Homo sapiens: one gene and its partners. Changing the gene in region 2 together with the main gene of any one other region gives a genetic interaction. Each region holds a gene or a part of one and is shown on either strand. Other genes may lie near its edges. The genes, in order: CSE1L, KRAS, LUC7L2, SNRPF, TKT, WDR83 and TBCD.

Region 1 (4,177 bases), on a different chromosome or scaffold from region 2:
TCACCTGAGGTCAGGAGTTCGAGATCAGCCTGGCCAACACAATGAAACCCCATCTCTACTAAAAATACAAAAATTTGCCGGGCGTGGTGGTGGGCACCTGTAATCCCACCTACTCAGGGGGCTGAGGCAGGCAAATTGCTTGAACCCAGGAGGTGGAGGTTGTAGTGAGCTGAGATCACACCGTTCCACTCCAGCCTGGGCAACAAGAGCGAAACTCCGTCTCAAAAAAAAAAAGAAAAGAAAAAGATTATGGCATTTGGCTACAGGGTAGAGGTGTGATGGGGTTTTTTTATGTTTTGACTTTCAGTCTCTTCAGATGATCAAAAACAGCAGTCTTGTTATTTAGTAATTTATCATATTCATAAGAAGTAACTAACATCTAAGCATTTTACTATTTCATTATAGTGATAATCTAATATTAAGTTGATTTATTTTGCTTTAATAGAATGTTTGGAATGGTTTTGGAAAAAATTATTATTCCTGAAATTCAGAAGGTATCTGGAAATGTAGAGAAAAAGATCTGTGCGGTTGGCATAACCAAATTACTAACAGAATGTCCCCCAATGATGGACACTGAGTATACCAAACTGTGGTAAGTACTTCATTTTAATATTTTTGTAAGTTACAGCTTCCTTCCCATATGACTGCAAAATTAACAAAGCTTATTCTCTTGGGGGCCAAGAGAATCTTGGTCTGATCTCAGCTTCTCCACAATCAGATCCAAGACATGATTTCTGGATCCTTCTGGGCTTAGAATGATCTTGTTTCCTGCTTCTTTTTCAGGGGGATTCATGGACCCCTTTAAGAGTCTGATCTAGGTGATCTCTAAGACAATTTTATGACAGAAGCCCAACTAAACTGACTTATCTTTAAGGGGAAGAACTGAATAAGCCAAGAAAAGAACCATCTTAATTTCAAAGGTCCCCTTTTATTCTTGAGACTATGAGTCTGTAATTTTGTGTCTCTGAGCAATTGCTGGTTTTAAGTCTTCCGAGTATTTTCTTGACCTTTTTATCTCTTGCTTTCTTCCAATCCAGGACTCCATTATTACAGTCTTTGATTGGTCTTTTTGAGTTACCCGAAGATGATACCATTCCTGATGAGGAACATTTTATTGACATAGAAGATACACCAGGATATCAGACTGCCTTCTCACAGTTGGCATTTGCTGGGAAAAAAGAGCATGATCCTGTAGGTCAAATGGTGAATAACCCCAAAATTCACCTGGCACAGTCACTTCACAAGTTGTCTACCGCCTGTCCAGGAAGGGTAAGTGTGTTGTCAAAGAACTCTGTGATAAATGGAGACTTTAATGGGAGGGCAAAAGGATAGTAGTAGTTCTGGTGTCTGTTTTCATTGGTGGGCGTAATAAAACTAAATCTCATTGAGTTACAGCAAGCTTATTTTCTTTAATTAAAAACACTGAGCCCTTTTTTTCTTGTATTATGTACTACAAATATATTTTAAGTGAATGGATTTAGGAGTGAGAACAAAGGAGGAAAAATCCCTTCAATAGAAATGTAATAAGGCTGTATAGTTGCATTTTGTCAGCACTTTATAATAAGAGTTTATTTCCCAGATCGAAGTAATCCATCTATTATTAAAATGTGGTAGCATTTTTTTATTTTTATTTTTATTTATTTATTTTTTTAGACAGGGTCTCACTCTTATCCAGGCTGGAATGCAGTAGTACGATTATGGCTCACTGCAGCCTCAACCTCCCAGGTTCAAGTGATCCTACTGCCTGTCAGCCTTCCAAGTAGCTAGGACCCACTATGCCCAGCTAATTTTTTATTTTTTTGTGGAGACAGGGTCTCCCTATGTTGTTCAGGTTGGTCTCAACCTCCTGGGCTCAAGCCATCCTCCTCCCTCAGCCTCCCAAAGTGCTGGGATTACAAGTGTGAGCCTGGACACAGTTATTTTTTTTTAATTGCAGCATACTCAGAAATTAATAGATCATGGCATAAACCTAATAATGACTGTATAGTTGCATTTTGTCAGCACTTATTATAGAGTTCTTACATGTTACCTGATAAAATATATATTTTTCAAGCCAGACACAGTGGTTTATGCCTGTAGTTCTAGTGCTTTGGGAGGCCAGGGCTGCAGTGAGCTATTACAGTGCCACTGCAATCCAGCCTGGGCAACAGAGCGAGGTCCCGTTTCTTAAAAAACATATATGTGTGTGGCGTGTGTATATATATGTATATATATTTTTTCATTGTATTATTACGGAGACTTTCAAACATATATAGAAAGAGCATAATGAAGCCTGCATGTGCCCAGCTTCAATAATTACCAATATCTTGCCAGTTTTGTTTCGTTTCTCCTTTTATTCTCTGTATTGAGCAAGTCTTAGACATCATACGTTTCACGCGTAAGTACCTTATTCTACATCATTAACCAGTAAGGACTTTTTAATTAACCACAATACCACTATCACACCTAATAATAGTAATTCCTTATGGATCTTTTCTTTAGACCTATTTTTGAAGGCATAAAAGCAGTTGAGTTTCTGGAGAATTTTTGGATGGTGATTAATGACTTGACTGGCTGCTCTTCCCAGAGCTGTGGCAGCTCTCCCGTAGAAGATGGGGTTTGTATTGGCGCACCAAGATCTCCAACAGCCAGTGTGTGTTTCCCATCTCTTGTAGGTTCCATCAATGGTGAGCACCAGCCTGAATGCAGAAGCGCTCCAGTATCTCCAAGGGTACCTTCAGGCAGCCAGTGTGACACTGCTTTAAACTGCATTTTTCTAATGGGCTAAACCCAGATGGTTTCCTAGGAAATCACAGGCTTCTGAGCACAGCTGCATTAAAACAAAGGAAGTTCTCCTTTTGAACTTGTCACGAATTCCATCTTGTAAAGGATATTAAATGTTGCTTTAACCTGAACCTTGAGCAAATTAGTTGGTTTGTGTGATCATACAGTTATGTGGGTGGCTTCTAGTTTGCAACTTCAAGGGACAAGTATTAATAGTTCAGTGTATGGCGTTGGTTTGTGTTGAGCGTTTGCACGGTTTGGATAATCTTAAATTTTGACGGACACTGTGGAGACTTTCTGTTACTAAATCCTTTTGTTTTGAAGCTGTTGCTATTTGTATTTCTCTTGTCCTTTATATTTTTTGTCTGTTTATTTACGCTTTTATTGGAAATGTGAATAAGTAAAGAATTACTTGTGTTACTTGCCAAGCAGTGCACATTTCATAGTTTCAAATCTGTAATCAGCAATAAAAATCCTAAAATATGTACCTAAGAACATCTTAAGGGCAGGTTTTCAGTGCTCTCTCATGCTTTTATAAAAATGAAGAATTTCTTTAAATTTCTTCCTTTTCCTTTCCTGGACTCTGTAAAATCCTAATTTCTAAATCATGTAAACTCAGATTATTTAGTCTTTTTTTTTATATGGGGGAAGGGGACATTAATATAGATTTGGGGCTTATTTACTAGAATTTTCTGTAGCAGTTCCTAGGTGGCAGTGTGAGTTTTGGGTAGGTGGCTCCTCTGGGAGAAATGCTCTGCCTCGCTTAATGGGATGGCGGTCGAGAGTACTTGAGACTGTGGATGTTTTGATCTCTTTCATCTCTGCTGTTCCCTGGAGAGTGGAGGTTACTTGGAACTTTTCAAACCCTGACACCTTAGAACCGTGAAGTCCAGTCCAGTGGTGGATCCGGCCGGATGCCTGGTGAGCTTGGTTGCACTGGCTCCCTCCCTTGGCCTGGCCCATGGAATTGTACAGCATTCGTTTCTGAGGAATGAAGAATCAGAATATCTAAATTTTGTGAGGCACAGTTTATGCTGGAATTGTTCATTGTCCATTCAGTGTAGTTAAACTGGAACTTTTGTCTTCCCAGCTCAAGTGATTTGTCACAGGAGTTATCGATATCCCTTTTTTTTTTCTTTTTTACCCCCAAGATAAGAGTCTTGTTCTGTTGACCAGGCTGGAGTGCAGTGGCACAATCTCAGTTCACTGCAACCTCCACTTCCTGGGTTTGAGCAATTCTCCTGCCTCAGCCTCTCGAGTAGCTGGGATTACAGGCGTCCGCCACCACGCCCAGCTAATTTTTGTATTTTTATTAGAGATGGGGTTTCACCATATTTGTCAGGCTGGTCTCGAACTCCTGACCTCATGATCTGCCTGCCTCGGCCTCCCAAAGTGCTGGGATTACACGCGTGAG
Region 2 (4,608 bases):
AGCCCATTACTTGGTAACATGAATAAAATATTTTATGAAAAATAACTATTTTCCAAAACAAAACCAAAACTTAGAAAAGTGGTATTGTTTCACACTTCAGTAAATCTCTTTAATGATGTGGCTTAATAGAAGATATGGATTCTTATATCTGCATCTGCATTCAATCTATTATGATCACACATCTGGAAAACTTGTGAAAGAATGGGAGTTAAAAGGGTAAAGGACATCTTAATGTTATTATGAAAACAGTTTTGACCTCTTGCACACCAGAAAAGTCTTAGTAACCTGAGGGGTTCCTAGACCACATTTTGAGAACTGTTTTAGGCTATGCAAACTGGTTGGGGGGAGGTTGGGGTAGGCAGAGAGCTAGAAGATACATTTTAGTGTAATTCTCCTCATCTATTCCTAATTGCTTTGGCCTACATTTGAAATAAAGCGTGGAGGCAAACGGGATAAGATACATGTTTGTAGTGGTTGTTAACTTCACCCTAGACAAGCAGCCAATAAGTCTAGGTAGAGCAGAGTAAGGCGGGGAACTATGCCGTGACCGTGTGTGATACAATTTTTCTAGCCTGTGGTGCTTTTTGCGGCAGGGCTTAGGAGTAAGGTTAGTATGTTATCATTTGGGAAACCAAATTATTATTTTGGGTCTTCAGTCAATTATGATGCTGTGTATATTTAGTGTTTATCTACAATATATGCACATTCATTAATTTGGAGCTACTCATCCTATAATAAATAGTTGTGCATTTACTCCCATTTTTTTCTGCATTTCTCTCCTTATTTATAATTATGTGTTACATGAGGGAAAGGAGGTGAAATTAAACATTCATATTATTTCAAAAAATTTGAAACAACTAACTAAAAAATATGTTTTATTTTCTGTATGGTGTTTGTTATACAATCTGTCAATATTCATGCACCTCTTGGGAGACAGTGTATGAAAAGCAAAGAGTAACAGTCACATGGATTACTGATTACTGAGATATATTCACTTGCATCTTTTTTTTTTTTTGAGACGGAGTGGCTCTGTCGCCCAGGCTGGAGTGCAGTGGCGTGATCTCGGCTCACTGCAAGCTCCGCCTCCTGGGTTCACGCCATTCTTCTGCCTCAGCCTCCCAAGTAGCTGGGACTACAGGCGCCCGCCACCACGCCCGGCTAATTTTTTTATATTTTTAGTAGAGACGGGGTTTCACCGGGTTAGCCAGGATGGTCTTGATCTCCTGACCTCGTGATCCACCCTCCTCGGCCTCCCAAAGTGCTAGGATTATAGGCGTGAGCCACCGTGCCCGGCTCACTTGCATCTCTTAACAGCTGTTTTCTTACTAAAAACAGTGTTTATCTCTAATCTTTTTGTTTGTTTGTTTGTTTTGAGATGGAGTCTTACTCCGTCACCCAATCTGGAGTGCAGTGGCGTGATCTGGGCTCACTGCAACCTCTGCCTCCCGGGTTCAAGTGATTCTCCTTCCTCAGCCTCCCCAGTAGCTAGGACTACAGGAGAGCGCCACCACGCCTGATTAATTTTTGTATTTTTAGTAGAGAGAGGGTTTCACCATATTGGCCAGGCTGGTCTTGAACTCCTGGCCTCAGGTGATCCACCCGCCTTGGCCTCTGAAAGTGCTGGGATTACAGGCATGAGCCGCCGCACCCGGCTTTCTAATCTTTATCTTTTTTTGTGCAGCGGTGATACAGGATTATGTATTGTACTGAACAGTTAATTCGGAGTTCTCTTGGTTTTTAGCTTTATTTTCCCCAGAGATTTTTTTTTTTTTTTTTTTTTTTGAGACGGAGTCTTGCTCTATCGCCAGGCTGGAGTGCAGTGGCGCCATCTCGGCTCATTGCAACCTCGGACTCCTATTTTCCCCAGAGATATTTCACACATTAAAATGTCGTCAAATATTGTTCTTCTTTGCCTCAGTGTTTAAATTTTTATTTCCCCATGACACAATCCAGCTTTATTTGACACTCATTCTCTCAACTCTCATCTGATTCTTACTGTTAATATTTATCCAAGAGAACTACTGCCATGATGCTTTAAAAGTTTTTCTGTAGCTGTTGCATATTGACTTCTAACACTTAGAGGTGGGGGTCCACTAGGAAAACTGTAACAATAAGAGTGGAGATAGCTGTCAGCAACTTTTGTGAGGGTGTGCTACAGGGTGTAGAGCACTGTGAAGTCTCTACATGAGTGAAGTCATGATATGATCCTTTGAGAGCCTTTAGCCGCCGCAGAACAGCAGTCTGGCTATTTAGATAGAACAACTTGATTTTAAGATAAAAGAACTGTCTATGTAGCATTTATGCATTTTTCTTAAGCGTCGATGGAGGAGTTTGTAAATGAAGTACAGTTCATTACGATACACGTCTGCAGTCAACTGGAATTTTCATGATTGAATTTTGTAAGGTATTTTGAAATAATTTTTCATATAAAGGTGAGTTTGTATTAAAAGGTACTGGTGGAGTATTTGATAGTGTATTAACCTTATGTGTGACATGTTCTAATATAGTCACATTTTCATTATTTTTATTATAAGGCCTGCTGAAAATGACTGAATATAAACTTGTGGTAGTTGGAGCTGGTGGCGTAGGCAAGAGTGCCTTGACGATACAGCTAATTCAGAATCATTTTGTGGACGAATATGATCCAACAATAGAGGTAAATCTTGTTTTAATATGCATATTACTGGTGCAGGACCATTCTTTGATACAGATAAAGGTTTCTCTGACCATTTTCATGAGTACTTATTACAAGATAATTATGCTGAAAGTTAAGTTATCTGAAATGTACCTTGGGTTTCAAGTTATATGTAACCATTAATATGGGAACTTTACTTTCCTTGGGAGTATGTCAGGGTCCATGATGTTCACTCTCTGTGCATTTTGATTGGAAGTGTATTTCAGAGTTTCGTGAGAGGGTAGAAATTTGTATCCTATCTGGACCTAAAAGACAATCTTTTTATTGTAACTTTTATTTTTATGGGTTTCTTGGTATTGTGACATCATATGTAAAGGTTAGATTTAATTGTACTAGTGAAATATAATTGTTTGATGGTTGATTTTTTTAAACTTCATCAGCAGTATTTTCCTATCTTCTTCTCAACATTAGAGAACCTACAACTACCGGATAAATTTTACAAAATGAATTATTTGCCTAAGGTGTGGTTTATATAAAGGTACTATTACCAACTTTACCTTTGCTTTGTTGTCATTTTTAAATTTACTCAAGGAAATACTAGGATTTAAAAAAAAATTCCTTGAGTAAATTTAAATTGTTATCATGTTTTTGAGGATTATTTTCAGATTTTTTTAGTTTAATGAAAATTTACCAAAGTAAAGACCAGCAGCAGAATGATAAGTAAAGACCTGTAAGACACCTTGAAGGTCATGGAGTAGAACTTCCATCCCAAGCAGATGAGGATTTATTTAATCTCAAAGACCTCCAGGAGGGGACATTCCCCAACTGTCCTTGTTAACTCATTTTCAGAACATATTTATTAGCATATTTTACATGTAATTTGGATCTTCATGTTAAATTTAACATCAGTGGAGATGGAAAATAAGCATATCGCCTTGTCTTTGAAATAGCCCTATATTGTTAGATTGTTTCTTAGGCTTCTTTACCCTGGGTTAAGCAGTCCTAATACTTTAGCATTTATTCTACATCTAGTGTACTAATTTAAAAAAATCAGTTCTGAAAAATTTCTAAGAACTTTCTTCAAGTTCCAAGCTGTGAAATCTAGAACAGGTCAAAGTGCCTTATTAACGTACTGTACTGTGTAGTGTCTTGAAGAGACACTTTGCGCTGAGGCAAGTTCTGAGGGCATTGGGTGGCCTTGGGAAGATATTTATGCAGTTTAGAACCTGGAGAATTGATTAGATAACTAATCATAAGGAAACGTCACATATTTTTGGTACTATAAAAAAGTGGAGAAATAATGCCTATTTGCAAAGATTTGATTTAAACATAGAAACAACTTTATTTGGCTTCCAATTTTAAGAATTTACAGCAGTAAAGGGGAACAGTCTAATTGAAGTAGACTGCCTATGCAATAGTCTCTGTATATTTACTTTTGACAAGTTAATTCAATGTGTACTATAGTTTTGTTTCTTTGAAGAGGTTTGAATAGTGCACCCATTTTAATCTGTATTGCAAATTCAGGGTTACTTGGCAGACTCTACTATTTAAATCAGATGTAAAAGGAAGTTTTAATATAATTCACTTTATGCCTGAAAGTTTTCCTGGGATTTTGGAAGGTGATTTTACTGGAAATGCTGTCTGTCTTCCCTGAAAATCTGAGAAATTCCATTACACTTTGTTTCCAATCAGAGGTCATGAGTGCTATATGAGTATATACAGCATGACGTCATGAATGTGATAAAGTGGGTTAGGAAACCTTTTGCTAATGATTGTTAAAATGCAATATAAATGTTGAAGAAATAAAGCTAACAGTTAAGCCTTTATTTGGGCGGAAGGCTGAAAAAGTTTATAAACTTAAACCTATAACTCTGCTTATGATTTCTGCCAAACCAGAAGACTTGACTCTGGGAAGCATTGGTTACCTGTGAACTTTGAAACTGACGGTCCCTGACGTAGTTTAGTCACCTGGG
Region 3 (4,608 bases), on a different chromosome or scaffold from region 2:
CTCAGGGACTTTGCATCTGTGTTCCCTCAGCCTGAAGCACTCCTCTCTGAGATGACTGATTCACTTGTTCCCTTTCTTCTTTCAGCTTTGCTTCAGTGCCAACCTATCAGAAAAGCCTTCCCTGCTTATTCCGTATAAATATTTCCACTCTTTTCTCTTTTTCCACTCTACGTAATAACATCTTTTAATTTTTTTTTGAGACGGAGTCTTGCTCTGTTGCCCAGGCTGGAGTGCAGTGGCAAAATGCCAGCTCACTGCAACCTCCGCCTCCCAGGTTCAAGTGATTCTTCTACCTTAGGCTCCCTAGTAGCTAGGATTATAGGCACGTGCCACCATGCCCTGCTAAGTTTTTTTTTTTTTTTTTTTTTTTTTTTTTGTATTTTTAGTAGAGTAGGGGTTTCACCATGTTGGCCAGGCTGGTCTTGAACTCCTGACCTCAAGTGATCCGCCTGCCTCAGCCTTCCAAAGTGTTGGGATTACAGGCATGAGTCACCATGTCCAGCAATAGATCTTTTTTTTTTTTCTTAACCACCTGACATATCTTTATTTACTGCCTACAAACCTGTATAGATCCCTTTCTATAGTATAAGCACTAAGTTTAGTGCAGGAACTTTGTTTTACTTGCTACTCAACCTCCCCTAGTATAGAACAGTGCAAAAATACCTAGTGAATATTTTTTGGATGAAAAAATTACCTAGAATTTTTAAAAAGATGAATAAAGTTATACATTGGAAGAAATGGCATTCATAATAACTCAAAATGAGTGGTTAAACGAAGTATGATTTGATAAAACTTACACTGAGAGTTTTATATTTTTTCCCTCTGCTTCCTTTTGGAATTACTCTTTTCAGCTGTGGAAATAACGCTTTTTTTTTTTTTTTTTTTTTGAGACAGGGTCTCACTCTGTCCTGAGTAGCTGGGACCACAGGCGTGTGCCACCATGTCCAGCTAATTTTTAAAAATTTATTGTAGATACGGGGTCTCCCTATGTTGCTCAGGCTGGTCTTGAACTCCTCCCGTTTAAGGATTAAGCAGTCCTCCCATTGTGGCCTCCCCAAGTGCTGGGATTACAGACACAAGCTATTGTGCCCAGCCAGAAATACTCTTTTTAAGTGTGGCTAAAGCTACGTCCATGTCATGTACCTTTCTTTGACTATAATGTTGACATAAGCTGAATGCCTTTTAGCATCGTTCATAACAATCAGTTGAAGATAAACTGTATTTGTAAACTATCTCATATGTATAATATGATTTTGAACTTGCTGTATCAAATTATGAGCAAACCTCACATTCTTAAAGTGACTTAAATTTAAGAGTTTTATTGAGGTATAAAATATATATATATATATATATATATATATATATATATATATATATATATATGATTTACTCTGAAGTCAGTGATTTTTTAGCAGATTTAAAGCTGTGCAACTATCACCATAATCCAGTTGAGAACATTTCCATCATTCTTAAAGTGACTCTTCTAACAAAGTTGCATTCCTTTGTTTCCCCTTGTTTTCTGTCAAACGTTTATGTCCTCTCCATGCCATTTCCACCCTCACCATGCACCCCCACCCACCCCACAAGTTAGTTTGTGACCTGGTGGAGGCTATAAAAGTGTCTTACCTTGTGGGTTTTTTTCTTTTCAAAAAATGTCTTTATTTTGCCAGCACCTTGATCGTATATTTTCTGGTTTTTCAGAATGTTTTTCGTTCTCTATTTCTGTGTATTCATTAGAAATACATTTTTTTTGCAATCTGAGTCAAGTTCTCAAAAATGATTTTCGCAAGTGTTCTTTCTCCCAAACTGTTTGCTCCTTGAATAGAGAACTGTCTTACTGTGTTTGTTTTGTCTTGCTCTCTATTGCCCAGGCTGGAATGCAGTGGTGTGAACACAGCTCCCTGTAGCCTTGACTTCCTGGGCTTGGGTGATCATCCTTCCTTAGCCTCCCAAAGTGCTGGGATTAAAGGCGTGAGCTACTACCCCTGGCCCTTACTCTGTTTTGATTACACTGTGACTAGACATGCATATTGTGGGCATTAAAAACTTACTTCTATGGTTATCTCACCTTTCTAATTCAGACAAAGAGTAATTTGTCCTGACGTATTCTTCCTCATCTCTTCTCTTCCCTTCTGTCCAGGTCTGTCAGGTACATATTTAATTTCTAGAGGATACAAAAATGTTCAAGATATTTAAGTGCAATTAAATTCATAACAAATCTAGATAATATAGCCCCTGGCATATAGTAGTGGTTCAAAAGTTGCTTTCACTTGAAAAACTATTTCTGATAATAAATTTATACATTACTGATTGCTCTCTGAGAATTATCAATCAGTGTCTTGTTTTTGAGACAGAATTTCACTCTTTTGCCCAGGCTGGACTGCAGCGATGTGATCACCAGGTCATTGCAGCAGCCTTGACCTCCCTGGCTCAAGAGATTCTCTCACCTCAGCTTCCTGAGTAGCTGGGACTACAGGCATGTGCCTCTGTGTCCAGCTAATTTTTGTATGTTTTATAGAGACAGAGTTTCGCCATGTTGCCTAGGCTGGTCTTGAAATCCTGAGCTCAAGCGATCCTCCTGCCTCAGACTCCCAAAGTGTTGGGATTACAGGTGTGAGCCACGGCGCCTGGCTGAGAATTATTAATGTTTTATTTTGAATTCTAGTATGTAGTTATTAACACACCAGCAATTCAGTGTAGATTTAGCTGACTTGGAATATAATTGACATTAAGACTACTGAAAAAAAGTTTCTCTTTAAAGAAAAGGCTTTAATAAATGAGAAATATAGTAATTACAAAGGTAGAAACAAAATCAAATCTTGTCTGGTAGATCCAGGTCCAGAGAGCATCGCAGACATCGATCTCGCTCCATGTCACGTGAACGCAAGAGGAGAACTCGATCCAAATCTCGGGAGAAACGCCATCGCCACAGGTCCCGCTCCAGCAGCCGTAGCCGCAGCCGTAGCCACCAGAGAAGTCGGCACAGTTCTAGAGATAGGAGCAGAGAACGATCCAAGAGGAGGTATTGATGTGTCAATCAGAGGATATGGAGCTACCTTAATGTTTTAGAGTTGTTTATGTTTACTTATGTTACTTATGTTTAGAGTTCAGATTATTGGTTTGAAACTTTTGCATCTGGTAATATGTACACATTTATGTGTGGGTGTACAACATTTTTCTGTGATTATATGGGTAGTTTTGAAAGAATATACTTATGAGCCAGAGCAAGAAATTGGAACCAATATGTGTAGAGGTTATTGCTTTTCTCTGCTTAGTGTGTCTTGGAAAAAAGTTCTTTACAGGTAAATAATTTTAAATACCAATACCCTTAGTATGGATCAGCAAATTAGGGGCTCTGAGAAGTCCTTTCATTACAAGAGTTGTTTAGCTTTGATTTATTGTTTTCTAAACTTATTTGAGCTGGGATGCTTTTTCAGAGCAGACACATTCTAGTATATTCTTGTTTTATCTGCACTATAGATATGTATTGTTACATACCTTCAGCTTGGCAAGGCAGACTAATAAGGAGGTTCCAAGACTTCCCTTGGTTTAATGAGAACATTCAAAAGGTGCAGGCATAGGGTAAGGTATGTTTGAGGACTTGAATATCTATTAAGGATAGACAAAGGATTATAATGTGGTAGAAGAGTTTAGCATTCATAGTCTGTATAGATCAAACTGTCAAAACTTCTCAGGTCACATGATGGCCCTTAAACCAGGTAATTTCTGTGTAACGTAAGCCATGTTTAAAATTGCTTTTTTCTTGACAACTATTCAGAAGTATATGTATGATAAACATTTTTTGAGTGCCTAGTACCTACTAGTCTTACATATTCTGTGGATTACTCCACATAAAATCTATAATAAAATCCACAGAAAGCTGTTAAAATCTTTCCTATTTTTTTTTGACTCAACTTTCCATTCCCTGAAATCACTCACAAGCTGAGTTTGTTAATAGGCTCTCAATATTTTATTTCTTATATTCTGGCCTTGTTTTTAGTATTTCTTAAGGTGATTTTAATAATAATTAATTGTATATGTTTTACTGTACTAGACTTAGTAAAACATAAGAAAGACGTATAACATAGTTGAACAACTTTAAGTTGCTCTAAGAAGTTTCCTATGTGAGGCTGGGTGCCATGGCTCACGCTTATAATCCCAGCACTTTGGGAGACCGAGATGGGCGTATCACTTGAGATCAGGAGTTCAAGACCAGCCTGGCCAACCAACCCCATCTCTACTAAAATACAAACATTAGCCGGGCATGGTGGCACATGCCTGTAATCCCAGCTACTCAGGAGGCTGAGGAAGGAGAATTGCTTGAACACAAAGGTGGAGGTTGCAGTGAGCCAAGATCGCACCACTGCACTCCAGCCTGGGTGACAGAGCGAGACTCCAGCTCTCAAAACAAAAAAAAACAAACAAAAAAAAAAACAAAAAGTCTCCTATGTGAGTTAGAACAAAGGATTGACATCTTTGACAATAATTAGACTGGCATAAGACTACCACATGTTATAAAGTGCTAAACTGCATATCATAGAATAAATGATCCGAGAGTTTAGATGAGGCAAATAACAGAGTAATCAAAAATGGCTTCAGGTAGTCGGT
Region 4 (3,453 bases), about 71 Mb from region 2:
CCTCTCTCCCATCACTCCTTAGTTCCTTCTCTGAGTCCCAAGTGGCATTGATTGTGATTTTTCTTTTAATTACAAGTAGAGCTTGTTACCTATATGTAGAAGGAAAGCTAAACATTTTGATATAAAATTAGAAATAATTCACCAAAATAACTGTAGGTAAAGTAAGAAGAGCTCAGACATTCGATTCATAATAATACCATAAGGGAAACACACTACTTTGCTGTAGTTCACCAAAATAGCTGTAAAGGTCACTGTTAACTATTTACCTTTCTCTTAAGAACTTGTTTTTCCCTGTTTATTAGTACATAATTAAAAATTCTTATTCAGGCCCAGATGTGATAGCTTATGCCTGTAATCCCAGCACTTTGGGAGGCCAAGGCAGGAGGATCACTTGAAGGCAGAAATTCAAGACCAGCTTGGGCAATATAGCAAGATCTCATCTCTACAGAAAAAATTGTTTCGAAGTAGCCAGGCTTTGTGGCACATGCCTTTAGTCCTAGCTGCTCAGGAGATTGAGGCAGGAGGAGCCCAGGTGTTCAAGGTTTTGGTCAGCTATGATTGTGCCACTGCATTCCAGCCTGGGCAACAGAGGGAGACCCTGTTTCTTAAAAGACAGGAAAAGAAGAAAATTCTTACTCAATTATTTGCTTTGGTTGTTGACTAATATAAAAGTATTTGGCATGTTAGCCATAGCTTTCGTATACCTATTTGGACACCTCAATATGAGTTAGAGACTGCCTTCTTCCACACACTGTTTTAATATCTAATAGAAAGAAATATTACATAACCTGGGAGATTCAGAAACTTATGTTGAAACAAGCTTTGAATATTAATTTCGTTGAAGGTTTATATGAAACCAAAAGTACTACAATAGTAATAGAAAGCTCATCTTCTGTTTATTAATTATAGATAAATTTGAGTTGTTGGTATAGAAAGGTCTCAGTTAATGAGTTCTCTCACCAATATTAGCTGTATTGTAATATTTTCCTCCTGTGTGATTATACTAATATATTTCTTTTTATTGAAAGCTTGCAAATACAGAAGAATACATAGATGGAGCTTTGTCTGGACATCTGGGTGAAGTTTTAATAAGGTAACAAACAGCAGTAGTATATGTAAGGAGTTACTGGTGAGCATTAGGAATACCTGTTCTAAATATATTAGTGCCTCAATTTTGGAATTACTTTTTTTTAAAAAATCACTATTATAATACTTTACAGTTAGACTTCAGAAGTCTTTGAAATTGTTAAACTTGTCAAAGGTAAGTTTTCAAATGTTTTGGAACTGGCCAAAAGATTTTTCTAGTGTTGATGTTTAATTTTCTAGCTCTTAGCTATAATCTTTTGCAGTGGCAACCTTTTGCAGTGGCCTTTGTTGCGGGAACTTAGTTTTGAATTTTAGTTGGGTCTGGCTGTTTTGTTATATTGATTTTCTGTACTAGCTTCAAAGCTCCAAATTCTGGTAATTATTTCCTTTGGAAAATCATAAAGATGTCATTTTATAACAACCATATGGTGGAAAATAAGTGCCATGTGCTTTTCAACAAATCTATGTGAAACTTTTTTTTAAAATGAATATATTTAAAAAATTTTTTTAAAGACAAGAATATTATAAATATAGTATTCAGTATTTTCATAATAAAAATATAGTAATTCATATCATACATGGTTTCTGGTTGGAACAACAAAATCGACTTTTTCTATTTACAGGTGTAATAATGTCCTTTATATCAGAGGTGTGGAAGAAGAGGAAGAAGATGGGGAAATGAGAGAATAGCATCTTTTGTGGGGGATTTTTTTTATATATATTTCTAGACAATAAAGATTTGTTTGTTTTTCAACTTGACTTGTGAACTATTTGTATTCAGATATTTACAAGCAAAGCTGAAATGATGAACCAATTGGGAAAGATTACTCACTGAACTAATGCTTTAAAAGCCACTGAATTTCATTTAAGTTGCTTTTCTTTTGTAAGCCCAATATTCTTTTTTTTCCCATAAAGGATAATTATTTATATGCTTTAGATATTTTTATGAAGGTGAATTTCAGACCTTTTCTTGTAAAATTATCTATTAGCTGAGACCTTTTAAATGCAACTTTTTCTTTTAAAGTTATTTTTGAGCTACTTTTAACGTATAAAATTAAACATTTTCTTGGTATTAATAATATACTGTCTTATTTTACTTAGTAGTCAATAAATTACATGTTAATTCTGTGTCAATATAAGCTAAATGCACATATTGCAGCTAAAATTGAAGCATCTTCTAAAAATTAAAATGATTGTACAGACAGGGCACAACAGAAATTGGGAACTGACATTCAGGCTGAAGGCATACGGTTTGTTCACTGAAGAGAAAAAAGTTCTCTGAACAAAATGTAATGTCAAATAAAAACCAGTCTCCCCATTATGTTCTGAGACATAACCTCGAGGTTGAGTTTTAAGCCCCTCAAAACCCTTCAGGTATTTTAGGGTTGTACATTGTTAAAATGTATAGTCCATAGTAATAACAGTATGCTATGAACTTCCCTACAGATGGGTTGAGAAAATACATCATTTACATTCTCATGTTGTAAGAGAATGGCCATTATTACACTTCAGTGTTCATTTACCATAGTTTTATCAGTAAACTATCTTTGTGTATCCCCAAGTGGGACAACTCAAAGTATAGAAGAAAGTGTTTAGCTATATGGAATAATACTTATGATATGAATACTTAAAGACTTAAAATTTACAAAATACACCTAAGACATTCTGGTAATAAAATGTCTTACTGCTTTTATTCAAGTAAAAAAATATTCTTCCTCTTGTGATTTTGTTTTTGTTTCATTGACTAAAGGTAGCTGCTGTTTGTTACCAGATGGAGGTTTTGAATGAAAGACAAGTCGTCTTCCCAACTGAAACAAAAGAAAAACAAAATACTTAATATTTTTTGAGCATAGCCATTTTCTATTGAAATTTGTGAAATACCAATATTAACTTGATTTTTACAAGGAATAATATGGTTTGTAACATTAACTAATCACAGTTAAAAGGGACTTATAACCTAACGGATGTCTAACATGCTAGGCAAAGTTGAGTAGCAAACTGGACACCAATAACTATGCAGAAGGAACAGCAGTTAGGTTTTATTGGGAAGTGGGAAAACTTAGGTAAAGTCATCAAATAGTATATGGTTCAAATGTGGTCAGCCTAGAAAAGCACCATGTTGAAGGCCACCATTTTATTTCTCAGTAAGTGCCATAGCCAGTTTTTCGTCCATGGTTGGAAGAGATGGCTTTCTCCTGTTGAGCACCTGACTAGCATTTAGAAATCTTGTTAAATAAAAAGTCCAGAAAACCATGTACCATCTTGAATACTGGTTGGCTTCTGGAGGTGTTCCCAACAGAAGAGGCTTTGGGAAACCCCGAGTTCATACCTATTCATTCTCTCTGGGTCATATATACTCAAATATAT
Region 5 (4,608 bases), on a different chromosome or scaffold from region 2:
ACCCTGGCTGGTGCCTTTCAGAGCTGCAGCTGTGTGTGCTCTGCCAGCTCCGGCCACCTGCTCCAGCTGAAGGGCCGACACAGAGCCAGGCAGGGCCCGGAGAGAACTGTTCCCTCCAGGAGGTGAGTGGGGTACTCCTCAAGCAATGGCAGATGCTGAGCAAGGCCTGTGTGGGCCAAGAGCCTTGGGGGGTTTGGAACCTGGGTTCTGCCCCAGGCCGGAGAATGAGGCAGGCGTAAGTCACTCCCTGGCACCCAGGTGTGGGCTTCAGATTCCTAGGCCTGGGATGGCCTCACCCATTTTAAAGATGGGAAAATGAGACTACAAGTGGTCAGGGACTTGCCCGGGGACAGAGGAAGTCTATGGCACGAGGGGGGCTGATCCCAGGGCCTGGGTCGGCTTCCCTGCCAAATGCCCCTGGCTGCCCACCTGCCTGCTCTCAGGGGTTGTGGCTTGTTCTGCCCATGTAGACTCAGGTATATGAGGATGTTCTGAGTGGGGGTTTGGCAGTGCTGGGAGGTGTCTGGGAGGGGGTGGATGTCGAGGAAAGGGCTCTGGGATATTGTCATGGCTTTGGTGCTGCTGCCTGGCACTGCCCTCTGGTGTTAAAAATGGGCAGGATCTGGACCACTTGCAGCTTCTTGGGGGCTCCTGCTAGTCTTTCGGGCTGCTGGGTGCTACCTGGGAGTTCAGTCTGTTCTTGGCTCTGGCCAGACTCTAGTGACTACTGAGGTGACCTCCAGGGAGAGGGATATTCAGCCTTCCTGGCCGCACACAACAAGGTGCCATGGGGTGGGCATGCCTAGGTGCTTATAGACTCCTCTGCTGCTCACAGATGCATTGGGTGACCCTGGAAGCCCTGTTCTGGGCCTTGGGTTCCCCTTCTGATGGCCAGGGTCCCTTCCAACCCAGTCGACAAACTGAGTATTTCTGCAGCAGACACCTCTACCTGTGTGTGACCCTGCAGGCGGGGTTGTGGGGAGGAAGAGAATGGACACATTGGTGAAGGGATGGGGCAGTGGGCCCAGAAACACACACCTGCCCACGTCTGGCCCCTCCTTTCCCACTCAGCTGTGAGCTCCCAAAGGACCAGGCAGTAGACAGTGAGTGGTGGGCACGTAGGAGTCCATCCTATTCACTGCGACCCTCCTTTCCTGGCCCCCGTGCCTGGCTGGGCTCTGCCTGTCTGGGATGATGCCATTCCTCCCTTGCCCTCGGCAGGTAGAGGGCCAGTCTCCTGGAGCAGCCTCCTGGCCCTCTGGGAGCTTCTGTCTTACCCATTCCTCTGTCCTCCCGTGTTGGGTCTGCAGGGGTAGAAGATAAGGAGTCTTGGCATGGGAAGCCCCTCCCCAAAAACATGGCTGAGCAGATCATCCAGGAGATCTACAGCCAGATCCAGAGCAAAAAGAAGATCCTGGCAACCCCTCCACAGGAGGACGCACCCTCAGTGGACATTGCCAACATCCGCATGCCCAGCCTGCCCAGCTACAAAGTTGGGGACAAGGTACAAAGTGGGGCCTGTTTCTCTGAACCCATAGTTCTCAGGTTTCCCAAGTCTGTGGCCCAGATACACCCTCTGGAGGGCTGGGAAAGGGAGGAGAGCGATTCATTTAGGGCGAGGAGTGATCCCTGAGGTGTTGTTCCTGTCACTTCCCTCAGAATGACAGACATCTCTGGAGTTGACCTGCAGAGGCTCAGACCGGGCAAGGGAATTGCCCACTTAGCAAGCTTAGCAAGCTACTGACAGAACTGAGATCAAAGCCAAGGACTCACTCCCAAGTTCTTGCATCGCTGGTCCACGAGGGACCCTTGGCCTGAGCTCAGGACCCCCACCTGACCTGGGAAAGGCTAGGCAGAGCTGTCCCACTCCAGGTTTCTGTCCCAAGGGAACCCATCCATGCAGCCTGTGCCTGGCCTTGACTCCCAAGCCTTCTGTGTTCCCATGCAAAGTGGAATAGGTTCATGGACCTGGTGCAGCAGGCGGGAAGTTGGGGCTGGTGGGTGTCTTCTGTAGCTTATACCTTTCACAGCCAGAAGGGGCCGGGGCTCCAGGGGCTCCCAAGACATTGACCGTAGTCGTTGGCAACCTTTCAGCAGTTAAAAGCCTCTGCAGGACCTTGTGCTCCAGGGCTTCCATTTTTGGCCCCGTTTTAATCCTTCTCTGAAAGCAGGGCTCCAGGCTGCAGGTGTGCACTCACCCTCAGAGGGGTCCAGAGCCTTCCCACTCTCTTCCTCACAGATAGCCACCCGCAAGGCCTACGGGCAGGCACTGGCCAAGCTGGGCCATGCCAGTGACCGCATCATCGCCCTGGATGGGGACACCAAAAATTCCACCTTCTCGGAGATCTTCAAAAAGGAGCACCCGGACCGCTTCATCGAGTGCTACATTGCTGAGCAGAACATGGTAGGTGCTGGGGCCGGCAGGGACAGGTCCACCCAAGGCTGAGGGCTGTGGTCTGAGGGGTGCGGGGCAGCCATGTTGGCAGAGCCAGGTGCCTGCTGTAGGCCAGCCCAGGGAGACTATAAGAAAAGCCAGGACCCAGCGTTAACCCCTGACCTTGAACAGCCACAGTTTGGGAGGTTCTGCCCAGGTGCAAATGTCCTGGACAGGTGTGCACATGGGGGAGCCGAATGGGACTGCAGGTGCTCTCAGGAGGAGCTGCGTACAGGCCAGGCCTGGTGGTGAATGGGGTCTCTTCCAGGTGGAGGACAGGCCTGGCCAGTAGGTGGGGCCGTGATGGGTTTAGCAGCCCGAGTCTGTAGAGCACCTGTAATGCACACGGCTCTGGGCCCTGCCACCCTGAGGGATGCAGAGATGAGGGAACTCTGGGCCCCTGACATGTACCCATTTGGGGAAGCAGACCCTTGTCAGGAACTGAGGTTGTGAAGTAAGGAACAATGTTTTGTCCATGTTTTCAAAATATCCCCTCCTGGTGGTCCAGGAGCCCAGCCTGGCTTGCAGGCCCCTAGGGACAGGGAGCTTCCTCTCTCTGGAGGGCACTCAGATCTCCAGAGTTCTTCCAACTGGACCTGAAATTCTCTCTGTGGTTTCCAGAGACTGCTCTGCAGGGCGTGGGGCTGGGGAGGTCCCAGGTACTAGGGAAAGAGGCCTTGTGTTGGCTGGCAGATTTTGGAGCCTTGAAGGGCAGCTGGTTTGGAACTGATGACTGTACTCAGTGCTGCTTCTGGATGAGTGATTTGGGGCCTGGAGCCTCAGCAGGCATGAGGCTGCTGCCCTCGGACCCCAGGGAGGGGTTGGGAGGACCGGTCTCTGCAGAAGAAGGTGGTGGGGGACATATTCAGAAGCCCAGAAAGGATGGACAATCTATATACAAATTGTGGCTTTCTCCACAAAAGGGGTCCTAGGCTCCCCGACCACCCTCTGCCTGCCCCTTTGGGCTGACCCTGTCCCACCTGCCCCCAGGTGAGCATCGCGGTGGGCTGTGCCACCCGCAACAGGACGGTGCCCTTCTGCAGCACTTTTGCAGCCTTCTTCACGCGGGCCTTTGACCAGATTCGCATGGCCGCCATCTCCGAGAGCAACATCAACCTCTGCGGCTCCCACTGCGGCGTTTCCATCGGTGAGTTTAGCCAGGGTGTTTACACCTGGAGCTCCCTTGACTTTTGCACCAGGAGGTATGGGAGGGGGATGGGCCAGGATTCCAGCCCATGGATGGGGGGGTAGGGGTCTTATTTCTGCATATCCTTTCCCCCACACCCCAGGGGAAGACGGGCCCTCCCAGATGGCCCTAGAAGATCTGGCTATGTTTCGGTCAGTCCCCACATCAACTGTCTTTTACCCAAGTGATGGCGTTGCTACAGAGAAGGCAGTGGAACTAGCCGCCAATACAAAGGTAGGTTGCATGGCTGTTCTTTCTCCTGCTGGCAGCCATCACTTCCCAAGGGAAACAGAAGAGGAGGCCAGAGCTGGTCACTTGCTGCCCCAGGGGGTGTTTCCTGACCTTGCCCCTGGTGTTCGTGTAGCTTGTGGAAGTTAGACAAGAAAAAACGAAATACACACCCCACTTACTGCCACGTGGCAGACATTGTCAACTGATTGCCAGTCTGTCTCTGCTGAGAATCCTGGCAGCCCTGGCCGGTCCAGCGGTTGACACCTCTCCACCCTCCTGAGTTGGGTTCTCCAAGACAGGCAAGGATGAGCTGAGCCCTGTGGTCCAGGCCCGGAGCTGCATGCCACAGACCCAGTGCGCGTGGTTCCTGCCCCTCTGCCTGGTGCAGTCTGTGGGAGTAGCCCACCTGCAGCCAGTCTACCTGGTGGAAAGTTGCCTTCGGTCTGAGGCTGCAAGGTGGTGGGCAGTTCTCAGAGTGTTCAAGTGGGGTGCGGGCGGCAGAGGGCAAGCAAGGCCCTTTTCCCTGCTGGAGTAGCCAGGATGCAGTAACTAACGCTCCCATGGGAAGGGATGGCCTCTCTAGAAAGACCTCGTCTCTGAGGTTGGGTGTGCCACATCCTGTATCCTCAGTTTATCTGTTTCGGTCTCAGGGTATCTGCTTCATCCGGACCAGCCGCCCAGAAAATGCCATCATCTATAACAACAATGAGGACTTCCAGGTCGGACAAGCCAAGGTCAGTGCCTCGCATGCCCCAGG
Region 6 (4,371 bases), on a different chromosome or scaffold from region 2:
ATGATGGAGTAGGACGTAATTGGCCCTGGGCCTGAGTCTCAAGGCCAGAGCTTCAGAATTCCACTCCTGTGCACTGGAAGAGCAGGCCCACTGGGCTGGGAAGGCACAGGGCTGCCTGGAGCCATGTGAGTGTAGTCAAGGTTCCCGCTGGATCTACCCTCTCCTGCAGCTCCGTGGATGGCCGCGTGAGACGCTATGACCTAAGGATGGGGCAGCTCTTCTCAGACTACGTGGGCAGTGAGTGTGGCTGGGGATGTGGGACAGGCAGGGAAGATGGGGGGCCAACCAGGGGCACCCCACCCTCACTCACCTACCCACCCTTCCCCCAAGGCCCCATCACCTGCACCTGCTTCAGCCGGGATGGGCAGTGCACCCTGGTGTCCAGCCTGGACTCCACATTGCGGCTCCTGGACAAAGACACAGGGGAGCTGCTGGGCGAGTGAGTCCTTGTGGTCGTGGGGATCCCCTTCCCTCCTCTCCCACCCCTGGAGAGGACCAAGCCCCCCGATCCTGTCCACCCTTAGGTACAAGGGCCATAAGAACCAGGAATACAAGCTGGACTGCTGCCTGAGCGAGCGTGACACACATGTGGTCAGCTGTTCTGAGGACGGGAAGGTGTTCTTCTGGGACCTGGTGGAGGTGAGGTGCCCCCAGCCCTACTTCATACCTAGATGCCTGCCCCATCTCAGCCCTGTCCTTACCTCAGTCACTCCAGGGCCTGAAGGCTAGGATCTTTTTTTTTTTTTTTTTTTTTTTTTTGAGACAAGTCTTGCTCTGTCGCCCAGGCTAGAGTGCAGTGGCGCAATCTTGGCTCACTGTAAACTCCGCCTCCCAAGTTCAAGCGATTCTCCTGCCTCAGTCTCCTGAGTAGTTGGGATTATAGGTGCGTGCCACCACACCCAGCTAATTTTTGTATTTTTAGTAGAGACAGGGTTTCACTATGTTGGTCAGGCTGGTCTTAAACTCCTGACCTCATGATCCACCCACCTCAGCCTTCCCAAGTGCTAGGATTACAGGCGTAAGCCACCACACCCGGCCCTTTTTTCTTTTTTTGAGACTATTGCCCAGGCAAATGCAGTGGCGCCATCTCAGCTCACTGCAACCTCTTCCCCCCAGGGTTCAGGTGATTCTCATGTCTCAGCCTCCTGAGTAGCTGGGATTACAGGCCCCTACCACCATACCTGGCTAATTTTTGTATTTTTAGTAGAGACAGGGTTTCACCATGTTGGCCAGGCTGGTCTCAAACTCCTGACCTCAAGTGATTCACCCGCCTCGGCCTCCCAAAGTGCTGGGATTACAGGCCTGAGACACCGTGCCCAGCTTGGGCTAGAGAGAAGATGAGGCAGGAAGGGCATTCCAGGCAAAGGGAACAGCATATGTTAAGAGGTGTAGCCTGCGCATGCATCAGTCAGGAAACAAAGGCTTCAGGGTGGCGGCAGGTGCGGCAAGATCCGGGGTCAGGCTGGGCTGCAGATGCCAGGCCGAGCAACTGGCACTGACCCCTGGGCAAGGGGGAGCCGACGGCCATGTCTAACCTTGGGTGAGATAGGGCTGCAGTCATTCAAGAAACTGGAGCTACATCTTAGCATCCCTGTGCATGGTTTCAAGCCCTGAGCCCTGTCCTTGACATGTCCCAGCCTGGTGGGGAGTCAGGCCAGAAACAGACCATCCTGGTGTAGTGGGGTCAGAGCCGGGGGAATCTCGGCAAAGGAGACATCAGCGCTGGGCTTGGCCAGGGGAACTAAGGCCCATAAGAGGATGGAGGGAACCGGGGGGGCCCTGAAGACTTGGCGGACAAGCTCTTGCTTTAGGAACTAAGGTAGCAAGAATGTTCCACCTATTTCTTATGGGCCCAGTAGAACAGAAGTTGCCTTGGAGGGCAGGCACATCAAGGGACATTTTCAAGGTGGAAAGAGGAAGCATGGCTTGCTTGAGGAACTGTTTACATTGTGTTGGGACCAGGGGAAGTGGGGATCATTGGGGCTGCCAAATGGACAGGATGGAGCCCAGCTGGTGGCAGGGAACAGGCAAGCTGTGAGCAAGGCATGCTCCAAACATGGTAGTGGCAGAAAATCAGCAGTCTCTGGACATGGTCTAGAAGCAGAGCCAAGAGGAATAACTGATAGAGGAACATGTGGTACAAGAAAAAGACTCCCGGCCAGGCATGGTGGTTCACACCTGTAATCCCAGCACTTTGGGAGGCCGAGGGGGGTGGATCACGAGGTCAGGAGATAGAGATCATCCTGGCCAACATGGTGAAACCCCATCTGTACTAAAAATACAAAAATTAGCTGGGCATGGTAGCGCGTGCCTGTAATCCCACCTACTCGGGAGGCTGAGGCAGGAGAATCGCTTGAACTAGGGAGTCGGAGGTTGCAGTGAGCCCAGATGGCGCCACTGCACTCCAGCCTGGCGACAGAGCAAGACTCCATCTCAAAAAAAAACAGAAAAAGAAAAAGACTCCCAAAGCCAGGCATGGTGGCTCACACCTGTAGTCCTAGCACTTTGGGAGGCCAAGGCAGGAGGATCACTTGAGGCCAGGAGTTCGAGACCAGCCTGGGCAACATGGTAAGACCCCATCTCTGCTATTTTAAAAAATAAAAAATCAATAAGAGGCTCCCAAGACTTGCGGCCTGAACACCTGGTAGGACAGAGCTACTGAGGGGCTCAGTCTGAGGTAGATTAATTTTGCAGTGTCTAGGAGGCAATTAGAGGCAGGTGGCTGAAGGTCGGGGAGAGGTGACTGAGGGCTTCAGGCAGGACTGAGATGGGGGGTGCCCAGGGACCTCAGAAACCAGGGTACAGCCCAGCCACAGATAACCACTCCCTACCCCTCGCTCCACAGGGTGCGCTGGCTCTGGCCCTGCCTGTGGGTTCCGGTGTGGTGCAGTCGCTGGCCTACCACCCAACAGAGCCCTGCCTGCTGACCGCCATGGGAGGCAGCGTCCAGTGCTGGCGAGAGGAGGCCTATGAGGCAGAGGATGGAGCAGGCTGAAGCCAGGGGACCCACCAACAGGACCAAGGACCGAGACACAGACATGGAAGGACTTCAGATACCATCTTATTCTAGAGACGTAGCTGACCAAAAAGTAGGGGAGGGGCTGGGTCTGCAAATTAATAAATAGAAGAGGGGGTAAGACCTTCCTGGGACCGCAGCCGCTCAGTCCTCGTTCTTCTCATGCATGAAGGCATCCATCTTCTGGGCAAAGGTTTCAGCCACAAGCAGGGGGAAGACCAGGGAGGCGTCAGCATAGACCTGGGTAGGGGGGAACCTGGGTAAGCCATGGGACCCACACTCATCGTCCCAGAGACCCTATGCCCCACCCAGCCAGCGCTTACCTTGACGGGCTGTGCATCCACCCGGATCTTGCCCCAGGAGACAGCCTCGTCTGGTCGGGCACCTGAGTCAGAGCCATCAAACTCCTGGGCTGTGTTGATGTAAACAGCGTAGTCGGCCCCGTTCCGCTGTGGGGAGGCGGGGGCACGGTGGGCCCAGTCAGCCAGTCACAGGAGACAGACACAGAGGGAGGACACCGTAGCCAAACAGGCTGAGAGGTGTGTCCCAGATGAAGGAAGCCCTTCACAGACATTCGCTCCCAGACAGGGCCCATGTCAATGTCTGGGGTCACTAGAGCTGCTGGGCAACGATGGCTGTGTTTCCCCAGACCCAACAGCCAGGTGTCAACAACCCTGCCCCATCTGCAAGGCAGGAGCTGCCAGCAACTCTATCTTCAGAAGCCCTCCAAATCCAACCACCGCCTGCCTCCTGATCCCTGCATGGTCACCACTGTCCTGGACTGGAGTTCTCACTCACCTGCCACCATCTGTTCACCACATGGCCACCAGGGGGAGCATGGGAACCCGAGTCAAGTCCTCTCCCACTTCTCTCAGTGCAAAAGCCAAAGCCCCGCCTCAGCCCACAGGGCCCAGCAGGCTCCCTGTGGCACCTCCCTGCATCACCTCCTGGCCCTCACCACTCCACCTTCCCCTCACCAGGTACCCAGCTGTTCCTGGATTACTTCAGGCGCCCCAGAGCCTTTGCAATGGCTGTTCCCTCTCCTGGGAACTTTGCAATCCAGAAGCTCAATGCTAGTACAGCAGCACAAACTCCTGGCACGGGAGACAACCACATAGCTCCTGGGAGATGCCTCCCCAAACCCCTGCTCCCAGCTCACACTTCCAGAAGCCTCCTTCCAAAACCTCTTGTTGGACAGCACCCCTTTCTCTTCTCATGCCATCATTTAGTATTCCCCGTAGCAATGACTGCCCCCTGACGTGGATGTCACTTGTTTGCTATCTCCCCTACTAGAACATCAGTCCCGGGGAGCAGGGATCCTGGCCTGTCTAGTTCATGCTGTCTACCCAGCACAT
Region 7 (4,608 bases), on a different chromosome or scaffold from region 2:
ATGGGCATGGGCACCCATGCTGGCTCACACACATGCTCACTTGCACGCGCGCACACACACACACACACACACACACTTCTAAAAGGGGAGCAGTCTCGTCACCCCGTGTTGGAGATCAGGACTGAAGCAACCAGAGGCTGTGTGGGTGTCCACATGGCATACCCGGGGTGGTGGAGTCCCAGGTGTCCTGCCTGTGGATGCTGCTCTGTTTTGAGTGCCGACTGTGAGGGCCTCCGTGCTGATCCCGGTGCGTTGCTACAGGTCTGTGGGGTCCACGCCCCTTGTTGAATCCAGCAAGGACGTAGGTGACGTTCCCTAGGTGTCTCCTCGGAACAGTGACCTTCCAACAGGGCTGGGTTCCCATAGAGCTCACGCACCAGGCAGCCGCTGTGGCCTCGGAGGACAGAGGTGGCCTCTCCAGGGCTTCCGCGAGGTTTTCTGGTTTGGGGAGGAGTGTGTGTCTGCTCCTAAACAAACACGTGGTCCCAGGAGAGGAACCGGGAGCAGCTGGGCTGTCTTCTCAACATGCGTTGAGAGAATGGCCATCTTAACTACTGCTCTGGAGACCCGTTTTTACAATGATTTTTTTAAAAAAAAACACCAAGGTGCATTCTGGACCAGATTCTAAAATAATTGGCTTTAGGACTGAAGAAGCCAGGTGTCCCGAGCGGGGCGAGGCCTCCTCCAGCGAGGCTGGGTCGGGGTGGCCTCCTTTCCTCACATCAGGGAGGGAGGAACTAGCAGGGTGGGCCTGGGGGCTTCTCCTATCGTTTAATCCCCTTTCTGTTAAAAAAAAAAATCCTTAGAATTTAAAGAGAATATTTTAAATTAGAAACGAAAAACATGCCCCAGATATCTCCACAGCATTGCTAGAATTTTTATTTCGCATCAACAGCTAAATTAAAACCTGGAAAACCCTTGTCAGCCCCTCCTTGGCCTCGCTTGGTCTGTCCTCCCGCAGTCCCTGCGCTGGGCGTGGTCCTTCCCGAGGGGCACCCCTTGTTGGGAAGGAACCGTCCTCCTGCGATTCCGGAAAGGGCTCAGGCTCGAGGCTCTGCTGGAGAACGTGCTCCTGTGACGTCTTTTCTGCCCTCAGCCTGGCTATGGATGTCGGGGGTGAGGTCTCCTTTCCCTGACTGCGGCCATGGAAGCTTGACGCGGGACCTCCGCACACCTGAGGTTCTCCGGTGGGCACTCGAGAGACTCACGGCTCTCCCTCTCCTCACAGGGACGCGGAGCTTGCAGTGGTGAGAGAGCAGCGCAACCGTCTGTGTGACCTTCTGGGCGTACCCAGGCCCCAGCTGGTGCCCCAGGTAACCCTGTCACCTTCACAGCATGAGGTGCCTGTGCTTCCCTGAGCTCTGGAATGTTCTGGGGCCAGCGGCTGTGCTTAGCTTCTGCCAGCACGTCCACACGGCCCGTTCCCTCGTCTCATGTCAGGACCCCTGGGATTACGGGACCAGCAGAGCTGCCTTCTCTGGCCACTGCCCACACCTGTGGGCCCCTGTGGCATCCAGGCCACTTGCTCTGGGGCGTTTGGGGGGCCGGGGAGTGGGTGGAGCTGGCACCAGCTTGATCCAGGCTCCTCATGCCTGGCCCTGGGGTCTGTTTGTGCTCCAAGTGCCAAGAGTGCCACCCTACCCCTCCTCATCTGCTTCCCATGAGTGGGGCCGGGGCTGGGTGAGAGGCCCCCAGAAGCTGCCCCTGTGCACCTCACCAGCCCGTCACTCTTCTAAAGTAACAAAAACAAGTACCTCAGTTCTCTCGGGGGCTGGGGCCCAGGGTTGCTGTGCTGTCTCTCTAGTTACCAGGGTTGGCTCCTTCCTCTCAGCCTCCTTCCGGCAGGAGGTTATATCTGAGAGGGAGGAGGAGAACCATGTCTAGATACATGGGGGCAGTGGGGATGGGCTGAGCATCAGGACACAGCCTCCCCCATTTCTGTGTGTGTAAAGGCTGAACTCAACAGCAGACTTTGGAATTAAATGTGCTTTTTACATTTTTATTAGGAAAAATTTCAAACGTGTGAATGCAGGTTAAGAGCAGTGCAGTGAACCTCCCTTCCCGCTCCCCAGATGGGGTGCCCTTCCGAGGACACGTTAGTCATGAGCACCTGTCAGCCACATAGCTCAGGCTGCCGGGTGTGTGGGAAACGGCACAAATGGTTTCCTGCAGGAACCGTGTCAGTCCCCACACAGGGCCCAGAGGGGTGAGGGTCCCCTGGCTGGGAATGGTGTGTGTTGGAGCTGACCAGCCTGAGCTTGTCTTGTCTCTTCTTCAGCCTGGTGCCTGCTGAAGCCAGTCCTGGAGCCCATACCTCACCCCTGCCTGGTGAGGATGTCTTGTTCCTGAGGGAGGCCGGTGTGGAAAGCCTCGCACAGTGGTGCCTCCAGCTGTTGAAGGGTAGCGCTGGCCCTTGGAGGCTGGCACTAGCTGACAGCTTTTCCTCTCTGCACCTGCGCTCTGGTGACTTGGGGTGGACGCCTCTGCCTTCACTTGAACACAAATGTGCTTCCTATAAAATCATGTACCAAGAAGTTCCTGCCTTTTGTCTCTGAGCCTGATGTGTGTAGGGGTGATGGAAAGGCTCACTGCCCAGGGGTCAGCCAGAGGGGAGGTGGGCTGCACTCCTCCTGCCTGGAGACCAGGCCCCCTTCTTGCCTGGTGCTGTCCCTGCTGTGGGAGACGTCTGGCCACAGGCAGTGCCCCACCCAGTCTTGGAGAGAGATGAATGTTAAATCAGAGGTTCAAATGCTAGAGAACTGAGAAGCCCTGGTGGCAGGCATGGTCTGGAGTGCTGGGCAGATGCTGTTTCTGGGCCCGTCTGCCTGGTGGGGGTGCTGTCCTCCCCCCTGTGCACACGTGAGCATCGTGCATGTGGCCCCTCTGCAGTGCAGGAGTCACTGATTGATGGGTGTGCCGACCAGCAGCTTCACAAATGTCTGCTGCAAGGGGAATCGTCAGAGTCCAATGTGTGCCTCTACAGTAATGTCGGAAATAAATACCATTCTTGAAATAATTACACTGTCTTAGGAGAGCCTGGGCAGAGTCCACACTTGGGTTTTTAGGCAAAGGGCAGGAGGCTACCTTTGTCTCTGTGTCTGAGCTCGTGCTGATCCATCCCAAAGCTGGTGAGGGGAACGTGTATAAAAATTTCACTGTGGTAGCAACCCACACCCATCTCTGGGACCTGTGCTGTGCTCATAGGGCTTGAGGTGCAGAACCACGGCCAGCAGCACCAAAGCAGCCCCAGGTGTGGCCACTCAGAGGCCCAAGGGCTTGGGTGAGCAACCCTTTCCCTATGTGAGGAGCCCAGGGGTGCCATGTGCGTGGTGTAGATTAGGGTGGCTCCCTGGCCTGCTCTCAGGTGGGGATGGGGCCTGGACACAGGAACATGGGCAGGCCGAGAACTGGGAGGTGCCACCGCATCTGTGAGGCTTGTGAGGTCACCAGGACCACAAGACCAGGACTGTGACAGTCCGTGCTGTGTGTTTAGCAGACAGCTCTTCACGGGATGTGTGTGACGACCTGGCCACACAGGAGTGTGGGGTTAACACACTACTGTTGTTGTGTTTGACCTGGTGGCCAATGGTCTTTATACCCTAAAAGAGCCTTGGGTTACATTTTTACGAGATTTAAATATTTTATTCCAACCTGTGTAATAGGGGTCTCCTCCTCCTTGAACTGTCCCGATTGGCTGGGGTCACGTGGTGAGGGTCCTGGGTGACCAGGCCTAGCCTTGGCCACATGAGTCCACACAGTGGAAAAGGCTTGGCTCCTGTGGTCGGCACACACGAGACTCTGGTTGCGCCTGCTGGGTGTGGAACAGGCGCACCATCGCCATGCCTGCAGCTCACAAAGCTCCTGCTGGCCTGGGATGCACTGAGGATGGAAGGAACAAGTGGCTTCTGAGAAAAACATGATGAACTGTTCTTAGTGCAATTAAAAGAAGATTCCAGATAAATGGCATTTTAAGACATGGAGGCAGGTCGATTACCCACCCAGACCCATCAGTGACACTATGTGGCAAAGCAGTTCTTCTTTTAATGTCGGTCTAACTTAGCAACCCGAGGAAAGTGGATCACTCCACTGGCCACTGCCTCTTTCCCACTGGATCCCATCCATCACTGGGGCACTTGTGCTCACCAGACACCTGGTGGCCTGGAAAGCCCTCTTTCAGCAGCCGTTTCTGGAGCCCACCAGGGTCCAGGTGATAGAGTTTGGCAAGGAACCCCTTGCTCACATGATAGCTGGGGCAGACAATAGCAAATGAACAAGCAAGCACCATCAAGGCAGGCAACACTGAGTGCTATGAACAAAGATAAAGTGGGCAATGGAATGGCATGTTGGGTGTTGACTCCGAGAAGGTGTTCAGAAAACCTCTCTGAAGGGGCAGCATTTGGGCAGAGGTCCAGACTGTGTCCAATGGCAGAAAAGAGAATGCTTGTGGTCCCAGAAGTGGAGCAAGCTTTGTGAGTTTAGAGAGCAGCAAGAAGCCAGTATCCCTGGGACCGGGGAGCTGATGTGGGATTTGTGTACCCACAAACACGTTCTAGGTGCTAACCAGAAACCCTCCATGTGAGAGCAGAGACCTTGGAGATCCTGAGGGTT

What was found.
Region 1: changes in KRAS (region 2) and CSE1L are lethal when combined (synthetic lethality), as found in Homo sapiens cells (2 studies listed by BioGRID, with this or other methods).
Region 3: changes in KRAS (region 2) and LUC7L2 are lethal when combined (synthetic lethality), as found in Homo sapiens cells (2 studies listed by BioGRID, with this or other methods).
Region 4: changes in KRAS (region 2) and SNRPF are lethal when combined (synthetic lethality), as found in Homo sapiens cells (3 studies listed by BioGRID, with this or other methods).
Region 5: changes in KRAS (region 2) and TKT are lethal when combined (synthetic lethality), as found in Homo sapiens cells (2 studies listed by BioGRID, with this or other methods).
Region 6: changes in KRAS (region 2) and WDR83 are lethal when combined (synthetic lethality), as found in Homo sapiens cells (3 studies listed by BioGRID, with this or other methods).
Region 7: changes in KRAS (region 2) and TBCD are lethal when combined (synthetic lethality), as found in Homo sapiens cells (3 studies listed by BioGRID, with this or other methods).

What each region holds. Positions count from the first base shown.
Region 1 is NC_000020.11:49,093,695-49,097,871, forward strand, and holds the end of CSE1L (exportin-2), read left to right. Parts: intron 1-445; coding exon 446-592; intron 593-1,037; coding exon 1,038-1,269; intron 1,270-2,481; coding exon of another isoform or gene 2,482-2,493; exon of another isoform or gene 2,494-2,654; coding exon 2,655-2,744; 3' UTR 2,745-3,255; downstream 3,256-4,177. UniProt on the Homo sapiens protein: Export receptor for importin-alpha. Mediates importin-alpha re-export from the nucleus to the cytoplasm after import substrates (cargos) have been released into the nucleoplasm.
Region 2 is NC_000012.12:25,243,322-25,247,929, reverse strand, and holds part of KRAS (GTPase KRas), read left to right. Parts: intron 1-2,534; 5' UTR 2,535-2,545; coding exon 2,546-2,656; intron 2,657-4,608. UniProt on the Homo sapiens protein: Ras proteins bind GDP/GTP and possess intrinsic GTPase activity. Plays an important role in the regulation of cell proliferation.
Region 3 is NC_000007.14:139,414,708-139,419,315, forward strand, and holds part of LUC7L2 (putative RNA-binding protein Luc7-like 2), read left to right. Parts: intron 1-2,754; exon of another isoform or gene 2,755-2,830; coding exon 2,831-3,022; intron 3,023-4,608. Other genes in the region: FMC1-LUC7L2 readthrough protein, read left to right, coding at 2,831-3,022. UniProt on the Homo sapiens protein: May bind to RNA via its Arg/Ser-rich domain.
Region 4 is NC_000012.12:95,864,296-95,867,748, forward strand, and holds the end of SNRPF (small nuclear ribonucleoprotein F), read left to right. Parts: intron 1-1,028; coding exon 1,029-1,093; intron 1,094-1,709; coding exon 1,710-1,776; 3' UTR 1,777-1,845; downstream 1,846-3,453. Other genes in the region: CCDC38 (coiled-coil domain-containing protein 38), read right to left, coding at 2,781-2,894. UniProt on the Homo sapiens protein: Plays a role in pre-mRNA splicing as a core component of the spliceosomal U1, U2, U4 and U5 small nuclear ribonucleoproteins (snRNPs), the building blocks of the spliceosome.
Region 5 is NC_000003.12:53,228,253-53,232,860, reverse strand, and holds part of TKT (transketolase), read left to right. Parts: intron 1-1,310; coding exon 1,311-1,504; intron 1,505-2,239; coding exon 2,240-2,404; intron 2,405-3,424; coding exon 3,425-3,581; intron 3,582-3,723; coding exon 3,724-3,854; intron 3,855-4,501; coding exon 4,502-4,585; intron 4,586-4,608. UniProt on the Homo sapiens protein: Catalyzes the transfer of a two-carbon ketol group from a ketose donor to an aldose acceptor, via a covalent intermediate with the cofactor thiamine pyrophosphate.
Region 6 is NC_000019.10:12,672,678-12,677,048, forward strand, and holds the end of WDR83 (WD repeat domain-containing protein 83), read left to right. Parts: intron 1-169; coding exon 170-237; intron 238-330; coding exon 331-439; intron 440-524; coding exon 525-639; intron 640-2,845; coding exon 2,846-2,995; 3' UTR 2,996-3,114; downstream 3,115-4,371. Other genes in the region: DHPS (deoxyhypusine synthase), read right to left, coding at 3,161-3,256, 3,340-3,465. UniProt on the Homo sapiens protein: Molecular scaffold protein for various multimeric protein complexes. Acts as a module in the assembly of a multicomponent scaffold for the ERK pathway, linking ERK responses to specific agonists.
Region 7 is NC_000017.11:82,940,171-82,944,778, forward strand, and holds part of TBCD (tubulin-specific chaperone D), read left to right. Parts: intron 1-1,228; coding exon 1,229-1,313; intron 1,314-1,319; exon of another isoform or gene 1,320-1,335; coding exon of another isoform or gene 1,336-1,884; exon of another isoform or gene 1,885-1,907; intron 1,908-1,978; exon of another isoform or gene 1,979-2,278; coding exon 2,279-2,293; 3' UTR 2,294-4,608. Other genes in the region: uncharacterized protein LOC124904095, read left to right, coding at 1,336-1,884.